Regions from separate parts of the Homo sapiens genome. Here region 2 is linked to region 1. The links come from fine-mapping of genetic effects on gene expression. A gene starts in region 1. The other region holds a variant in brackets. All regions are shown on one strand. Distances are between the middles of the regions. Region 1 holds the start of STAP1 (signal transducing adaptor family member 1). Region 2 overlaps STAP1 (signal transducing adaptor family member 1).

Evidence for each region. PIP is the estimated chance that this variant, and not a neighbour inherited with it, causes the effect.
Region 2: its variant is the best candidate, but not a certain one, in a credible set for the expression of STAP1 in B cells (Fairfax 2012, PIP 0.57).

Annotation. Positions count from the first base shown.
Region 1 is chr4:67,556,284-67,560,688 of GRCh38, reverse strand. It overlaps STAP1 (signal transducing adaptor family member 1), which reads right to left and starts at 1,962. Exons shown (of 9, transcript NM_012108.4): 1 at 1,760-1,962. The coding sequence starts at 1,879.
Region 2 is chr4:67,603,183-67,607,587 of GRCh38, reverse strand. STAP1 (signal transducing adaptor family member 1) reads right to left here. Exons shown (of 9, transcript NM_012108.4): 9 at 251-1,292. The coding sequence ends at 1,231. Among named protein-coding and RNA genes, the nearest start is that of STAP1, 47 kb to the right of the region's middle. The variant A/G (reference allele first, on the strand shown) is at 1,717.

The DNA of each region.
Region 1 (4,405 bases):
AGAGGAGACACTGTCACACACACACACACACACACAGACACACACCCACACACACAAAGATACTTTACTATAAATTCAAATAGAAACACAAGTTAATTTCATTGGAAATATTTATGCCTATAGGTATTCATTCTGCTTCAAAGAATGCTTTCTAAGAGAAGGTAAAGAGTAGAAATTTGGTAAGGAAGACATCATTCCTACTATATTAAGCCTCTTGAAAATAAAATCTTTGTGTTTTTTTCCATATTCTCCAGAAATGAGTGATGCTTGGTGCATAGGAGGCACACAATAAATGTTGAGTGAATAAATTGATTGAACACCTACTGAATCCTAGAATGTACCTTAGGAGGCAAGTAGCAAGTAGTATACTCTCTATCTTATAGTTGAAACAGTCTCAAGGAGATTGAGTAACTTGCACAAGATCACAAGCTATAAGTGGCAAAACCATCAGATAAAGGACACTCTAAAATTCTTATTCTTTCTGCTAACCATACCAATGACATGTCTTCTTTAAGCATTTAAAAAAAACTGCTATCATAAACAGTTATTATAAATACCTTGGAAAACATTCAATGAACAACCTGATTTAAATTACTAATTAGAATTTTTTTTTCTCAACTTCCCTTTCCTGGCAAAGTGTGACTATGTGGCTTACCTGTGGTGACAAGATTGAATTTACATTAAAAGCATATAGGATCAATCTAAAAAATTCTAATATAACTGAAAGGTAATTATTTATGCATGTTTAACATCCATAACAGAATACAAATTACCATGTCTTTACTCTCAAATAGTAAATGATCTGATTATATATGTAAGAAATGTGAATATGCTATTATAGATTTTTCATATATATAATTTTTCCACAAGTATTCATAAATCCTCAGAAAATATATTTTAGCATCATTAAACATTTCTGATGGAATTTCTGAAAACCTTAAAATTTTTCTAGTTTTAGTCAGTATACAATTTCATAAAATTTGACCTAACTTAATGATTTTTTTATTTAATAACAGGCAATTTTGGGCTTATTTCTCTAATTAATTTCAAGTCATCCATAATTACTGTTTTAAAAGTAATGATTTTAACTAACTATAAGTTTTAATTATTACATTTAAAAATACAGAATGCTTCATGGATTTTCTTAGAGCAAAGGTATTTATGTAGCTTAGTGTACTTAATACCCACAGTAGTACCCCAAAAATTAAAAGTCACTATCTTGAATAGTATTTTAGAACACATAACTATATATAATGTTAAACAGTATGAACTTTGTCATTTTAACAATTTTTACAAAAGCCATTTTTAATAATTTGATCATTATAAACTTCAAATGACTCAGAACAGGAGCAGGTTTAATTTTAATCATGATATCATTTTATCTTAATGGTACATGTCATCATTGAAGCATAGCAATAAATTGTGGAGAAAATACAAGAAACATTTTATCTCCCAAGCCAAAATCTTTTGTGATATTTAAATAAATTCTTTGGAAATTTAGCTTATTGACTTTTTTATATTAGTGCCTTAATATTACAACCTCTGTTATTATACATATTATATATGTGTATACATACAGGTTTAAGCCAGACATTGTATTTAAATTATGAAAAATTGGAATCATTTTTCTGAGCTCAAAGAAGAGAAGATGATTTAATTTCAACAGAAACAAGGAGGTCTTAACACATCACATCACCATGAAATAAATATTAAATTAAAACAGAAGTCTTAGGTTTAACATTATCATCTATAGACTCACCCGGTATCCTGACCGCTTGATTAATAAAAAACCTTCAAAGTACAAAGGTAGAGCAGTAATCTTTAACCTTTCCTGGAAGATCCTGCGAGGGGCTGGTTTTGGGGGCTTCTTAGCCATCATACCCCTCTCTTTGGTGTGTGGTTTGGTTTCTCGTCTCAAACAAAATGAAATCTTCCTTCTGTGAGAGGAAAAGGCAACTGTTCAAAGAGGAAGTCCCAAATTGCTTTTTAACCACCAACACTACCACCAACAGGACACACACACACACAGACGCACACACACACACACACACTTTTTTTTCCATTACTTTTTGTGAGGTAAGAAAGAACAGGTGTAGACTGACTTTCAGAGGGCAATCTCTGGGTAATCCACATGTGCTTAGATTTAAAGCGCAAAATAAACAGAAGATTAACATCACCAGAAGATGAAAGAAACAGGTGTAGAGATTGTGAACTTTAGGGGAGATATCAAGAACACAGTTATTCTTTCTATCTTTGTTTTTGTTTATTGGTGTCCATTTTTATTTGCAGAAGACATGACTTGAATAAACTCAGCTTCATTAAAAATTACTTCATAGAATAATTTTATTAGTACTACTTCTGTTGGTTAAATATTTTAGGGTCAAGTTTTGTGTAAATAAAAAAAATAGTTGTATCTCATGCTCATTTGATGCTTCACTAAATATAAACCACAATTATGGGAACACGGAATATGGAATTTTTTTCTTTTTTCTTTCTTTCTTTTTTTTTTTTTTTTGCCAGTAGATATTCCAAGTACATGAGTTCCCAATGAATATTTAGTGCTATGTTTTGAATGTGTCCTCCAAAACTTATGTGTTAGAAACTTAATCCCCAATGCAACAGTGTTTAGAAATGGGACTTTTAGAAGGTGATTAAGTCATGAGGCCTCTGCCCTCATGAATGAATGAATTAATTAATGCTGTGGGAGTGGGTTTCTTTCTCTTTTTTCAGAGGCAGGGTCTTGCTCTGTTGCCCAGGCTGGAATACACTGGTGCAATCACAGCTCACTGCAGCCTTGACCTCTCAGGCTCAAACAATCCTCACACATCAGCCTCCTAAGTAGCTGGGACTACAAGGCACGCGCCACCACTCCTAGCTAACTTTTTCATTTTTTGTATAGACAGTATCTCCCTATGTTGCCCAGGTTGGTCTCAAACTCTTGGGCTCAAGCGATTCTCCTGCTGTGGCCTCCCAAAGTGCTGGGATTACATGTGTGAGCCATTGCACCTGGCCTGGAAGTGGGTTTTTTATAAAATCAAGTTTGGCACTTTCTCACATGCTATCATCCTCTCTTGCTCTTCTATCTTCTGCCATGGAATGATGCTGCATGAAGGTCCTCATCAGATGCTGGCCATGTTCTTTGACTTCCAGACTCCAGAACCATGAGCGAAATACATTTCTGTTCATTATAAATTACCAGTCTGTGGCATTCTGTTACAGCAACACAAAGGAGTCTAAGATATTTGGCAAAAAAATATCTGGCAGAGAAAGCTGTAAGTTTTCAAACTTTTATTTTGTTCTTTTGTGCTTTCTGAGCTGCAGACCATTGATACTATGATTCATGGATGGACTTCCCACAGTTATCTAGTGAGATTTATAAAGCTATACTGGGGCCAAAGTGCACTCAATGGTTGCATGTAGGAAATGGTCCTTAAGAGATTGGATTTGGCGTAGCACAGTGCAGGAAATGATGGGAGAAAAGAATACTAGAAGGAATTTTGATTTGTCTTACAGGGGTCCTAAGAATTTCTACCATTGCCTATTTCACACTCAGTATTTCAGAACTACTCTAGATTTAGAACAGCCTGGGCCCAGTGAGACCAGCCTATTATTAGAAATCAAAGCAAGTCAGGAGTCTTCAGTCTGATTCTCCTTTCCTAATGGAGAGACTGCATGGTTTTCTCCACCAGTATGGGTCCCACTGATCCTGCAGCTGTAGATATGGGATGACAAATTGTCTACAAAGTGAGGTAGAACAATACGGACTGATTATCAGTAAGTTAGAGAAGAGTGTTCAGATGTATTATCAAAATGAAAACAGCTCAAGACAGAAATAGGGAGTTGAAGATCCAAAATGACTGCTTTGCTTTTGTAAGTTTAGACCTGCTTCTTGCTACCCAACCTTCAAATAATAAAATATAAGTCCAACTGAATTTTTTGAGGCAAAAACCATAACTATTTTTTAGTTTCGGTATACTAAGAAAGTGACTTGAATAACAGGAAAACCTCCTGATTGAATATATGACCTAATCCACTTTCTTGGCAGCTGTTAGTTGTTGTAATACAGGGGGGAAGTGAAAGGAGGGATTAAGAATTGAAAAATGAAAAGAAGCAAGGATAAAGAAAGAATGCTGGGAATCATCAGTGATTACGCACTGACTTTATGGTCAGAAAGTTTCATAGGTGAGAGAAAATAATACCTCTAAAAAAATGTAAAGGGGATTTTTTGTTGTTGTTAAATAAGCACTTAGTTTTTTTTTTGCCTTTAAAATATAAGCAACAATTTAAAAACAGCTAATCAGACACAGTAAGTTACTTTGGTCTGCTGATTTGTTCGTCAAATTCATTCTTAATATACCAAGAATCAAATTATATCTCCCTGAAAAAGACTACAAAATGCAAAAAT
Region 2 (4,405 bases), 47 kb before region 1:
CTACACAGATTATTTATCTTCATATTATAGTAGATCTTAAAGAACTGGTTCTCAAATTTGTTATGTATAGCAATTACCTGTGTTGTATGCTTAAAAGGCAGATTTCTGGACCAGCCTCAGCGCCGCCCCCCCACCCCCAAAATTATAATTCAGTAAGTCTGAGAGAACTCTTCATATTTTCAGGCATCCCAGGAAGCTCACTGAATTAGTTCGGTAGGATTGTCATTACAAATACCACAGACCATGTGGATTAAGGAACACAAATTTATTTTCTCACAAGTCAAGAAGCCGGATTTTCAAGGTTTTGGCCAGGTTGATCTTTTTTTCCCCCCGAGGCCTCTCTCCTTGAGTTGTCAATGGCTGTTTTCTCCCTCTGTCTCACATAGTCTTTCCCCTGTAGAATATAGACCATATCTTTTCATTCTTAGTTGATTGTGTGATTCCCAAATTGATAACCATCAAAATCAATTTAGAAGTTTGCTTTTGAAGAAAAAAATTATGAAAAAATATCCCTGTTATTTTGATTCAGTAGATGCAGTCTGGGGCTGATGGTTCCATATTTTTAAGAACTCCAGGTACTTATAATCAGGCTCATCGTACTTACGACAAGATGATGATACAGCCTTTCACCATCTTTGTAAGGAAATAATGGGCTGATTTTGAGTGGCAAAAAGATGACACCAGGGAAAAACATGGGAATGAAGACATTTATTTCCATTAACAAAAAATGTGGTATATAATATTTCCATTGGAAAAGGGCTCCTCTAGTACATTTCATGTCTCTAACTTCCAGCTAGGTAATTAAAATGACATATTTGATAAATTGGTCAAATCAGATTTCAGCAAAACTTAGGTTTTTTGGGAATTGGTAAAATTTAGAACTAGAGAAACTGCTGTTGGAATTATATAGGGGAAATGTATTTCATTGAGGCCTAAAGAAAAAAATTCCATCTAGAAAGTACTATGTGTTTTCAACTTATGTCAGTGCATGGGAATGTGTATATCTGCAGGTTACCACCACAGCCGTAGTCTCTAGTTTCCCTGTGAATTGGTTTCATTCTGATAAGATAATGAAATTGTATGGTACAATGTTTAATTCTAATTCTGGTGTTCAGGTGAATGACTTGGTAATCAGTATCAGGAGAATATAGGTAATTCTCTTTAAAAGTAAGAACTTCGTTTTGAAAATATAAATTACCAAGATATACAAAGGAGCTTTCACATTGTATTTCATGCAATGTGTGGATTTTTCTTCAACTTTTCACTTCTCCCTTCCATACTGGGTTCTTGACCTAGAAATTGTGGGTAGAAAAACTTAATTAGCGAACCAATATTGTAGAAAACGGTGGTTCTTTATTTTCAGTGAGTTGATTTTCCTGCTCGTGTGTGGAACATTGCTGGTGTGTTTAGTAATTGTTAGGAAAATAAATACTGAATATTCAGATGCTTTTTTAAATTTTATTTTATCCTGGACCTGTAACTTTGTACCTAATAATTTTTTTCTTCCTCTTTAGCTTAATAGGCCTTATATTTTGAAGCGGCTTTTAGTTTAAACTGCTAATTTCTGGAGTTGGGAAATATCTTTGACCATTCTTGTTCCATTATTGCTCTTGTCTTCTGGTGTAAGAGAGAGCCAAATGCTGACATGGGTTAACAGGGATCAAAAAAATCTTATTTTCTTTTAGATAATATTTTATTACATATTAGCTTTTTCCA[A/G]ATCTCCAGATTGGAACCCTTACCTGCTCTACAACTCCCATTTCCCAAGTTTGATGTACTAGCAGTCTCACTGTGCCACAGCCAGCTATGAGTCCAAATTCCTGAAGCAATGTTAGGGTTCCACAAAGTTTTCTTAAAATATCAGCATTATTTGTCAAGATAAGTTTTTATCTTTGTGTAGCTTTTCTTAAAAAGTCCTATTTTCATTGTCATGTACTTTTCCATCATTTTTCTGCTTTTGAAAGAAAATACGTTACACTACAGATAATATTCTAATTATTTAAAGTCTTTCTTCACAGGACCCTCTAATTCCATCTGTTCTTATGTCATTCCCCAGTCCCTATAACAAAGGCATCTGAAATGCAGGGGGAGGCTGAGTAGTTTGTTCCCGACCACAAAGCAAACTGAACACATTCAGTCATATACCAATAGCAATCTGGTTGTCTGTTTCTAAAATCCTTAAGGTGCTTTTTTTTTTTTTTTGTATTGTCTATTTTTTCTTCCCTGGCCCTGCCCTGAGGGTGGGGCCCCTAGTCAAGGTGCAGTACTTTGGCAGTGACAGCATGGGCACCTAAAACCCCAAGAGAAAATTTAGCCTTCCAGCCAGAGAAATCAGGAAAGGTGGGCAGAGGGGAGAATTGGAATTACATTTTTCTCTTTCTTATCTCTAACTTTCTTGGAGAGATTGGGCAACTGCAGTCTCACAGAACTGCAATTACAGCACAGGTGTCATTAATAAGCTCCATCATTCTAGCTAGAACACCAGGAAAAAGGACCCTTGGCGGCTCGAGAGTATGGAGAAATCCCAGAGAGGTGACAGCTGGAAAAGAGTTATTTCCTAGTTCTGTGTATGAAGTGACACAAATTCCAGGCTCACCTCTGAATTGTGCATGCACAGAACCAGATACAAAACAGATGGCAAAGGCGTTGACAGCTAAACTAAGGCATAAACCACAACCAAGTCCCAGGCTGAATACAGACCCAAAACAGCATAACAGAAGCTTTGAAAACTGAACCAATATTGGAATGGCTTCCCACAGAAAGTAAGAGAGAACTGGTTCAATCTAATCAAGATGGTTGCCTGCTTTTAAAAAATGCACCAGAGAATTTTAACAGGACCCAGAGGCTCACAACATAATATTCAAAATGTCCAAGACACAATTCAGAATTACTTGATATATGAAAAACCAGGAATTACTTGATATACAAAAGAAGGAATTTGACCAATTCCCCAGTTTTCAAGGGAAAAGACAATGGATGCCAACACTAAGATAACCAAGATGTTGAAATTATCAGATGAAGACCTTAAAGCAGCTATGCTTCATGAGGTGGTCATAAACATTCTTGAAATGAATATAAAGATAGATGTTCTCAACAAAGAAAAGCTATAAAAACCCAATGGAGAGAGGAGGTGGAGCAAGATGGCCAAATAGAACCCTCCAGCTATCAGCCCCCACCACCACAGGAACACCAAATTAAACAACTGTCTACACTAGAAAGCACCTTAATAAGAACCAAAAATCCGGTGAGCAATTACAGTACTTGGTTTTAACATCATAGCAAGGAAAGAGACACTGAAGAGGGTAGGAAAAATAGTCTTGAATTGCCAACCTGGTCTCTTCCCCCATCTCCCAGCAGTGGCTGCTCGTGCAGAGAGAGAATCTGTGTGCTTAGGAAAAGAAGTAGACAGTGACTGTGGCACTTTGCATTGTAACTCAGTGCTACTTGTCACAGTAGAAAGCAACACAGGGCAGAATTCAGCCAGGACCACAGAAGGGAGCATTTAGACCAGCTCTTGCCAGAGAGAAATCATCCATCCCAGTGGGCAGAATCTGAGCTCTGACTAGTCTCAACACCACAGGCTAAAGTGATCTAGGGTTCGAAATAAATTTGAAAGGCAGTTTAGGCCACAAACACTGAGGGTCCTGGGCAAGTCCTGTGCTGTGCTGGGCTTGGAGCCAGTGGACATGTAGTGCACATGACCTAGTGAGACACCAGCTGGGGTGACCAGGGGAGTGCTTGTGGCACCCCTCCCCCAATCTCAGGCAGCACAACTCCAGGAAAGACTCCTCCTTTCTGCTTGAGTAGAGAAGAGGGGAGCATAAACTTGGAAAGCAACTCAGTTGGAAAGCAGCTCACCCACAGTAGAACAGGGCATCAGGCAGAGTCATGAGGCCTCCATTTCAGGCCCTAGCTTCTGGGCATTTCTAGACACGCCCTGGGCCAGAAGGGAATCTACTGCTTTGAAGGGAAGGACTCAGTCCTGGCAGTATTCATCACCTACTGACTAAAGCATGCTTGAGCCTTGAATAAACATCAACAGTAGCCAAGCAGTACTTGCTGTGGGCCTTGGGTTGAGACCCAGAGCTGTGCTGGCTTCAGGTATGACCCAGCACATTCCTAGCTGTGGTGGCCATAGGGAGAGACTTTTGCTTAAGGAAAGGAAAGGGAAGAGTAAAGGAGACTTTGTCTTGCAGCTTGGGAACCAGTTTGGCCACAGTGGGGTAGAACACCAAGCAGGGCCTTGTGGTTCCCAATTCTAGACCTTGGTTCCTGGATGGCATTTCTGGACCCACCTTGGGTCAGAGGGGCGCCCCTTACCCTAAATGGAGAGACCCAGGCCTGGCAGTATTCACCACAAACTGATTGAAGAGCCCTTGGGCCTTGAGTGAACATCAGTGGTAGCCGG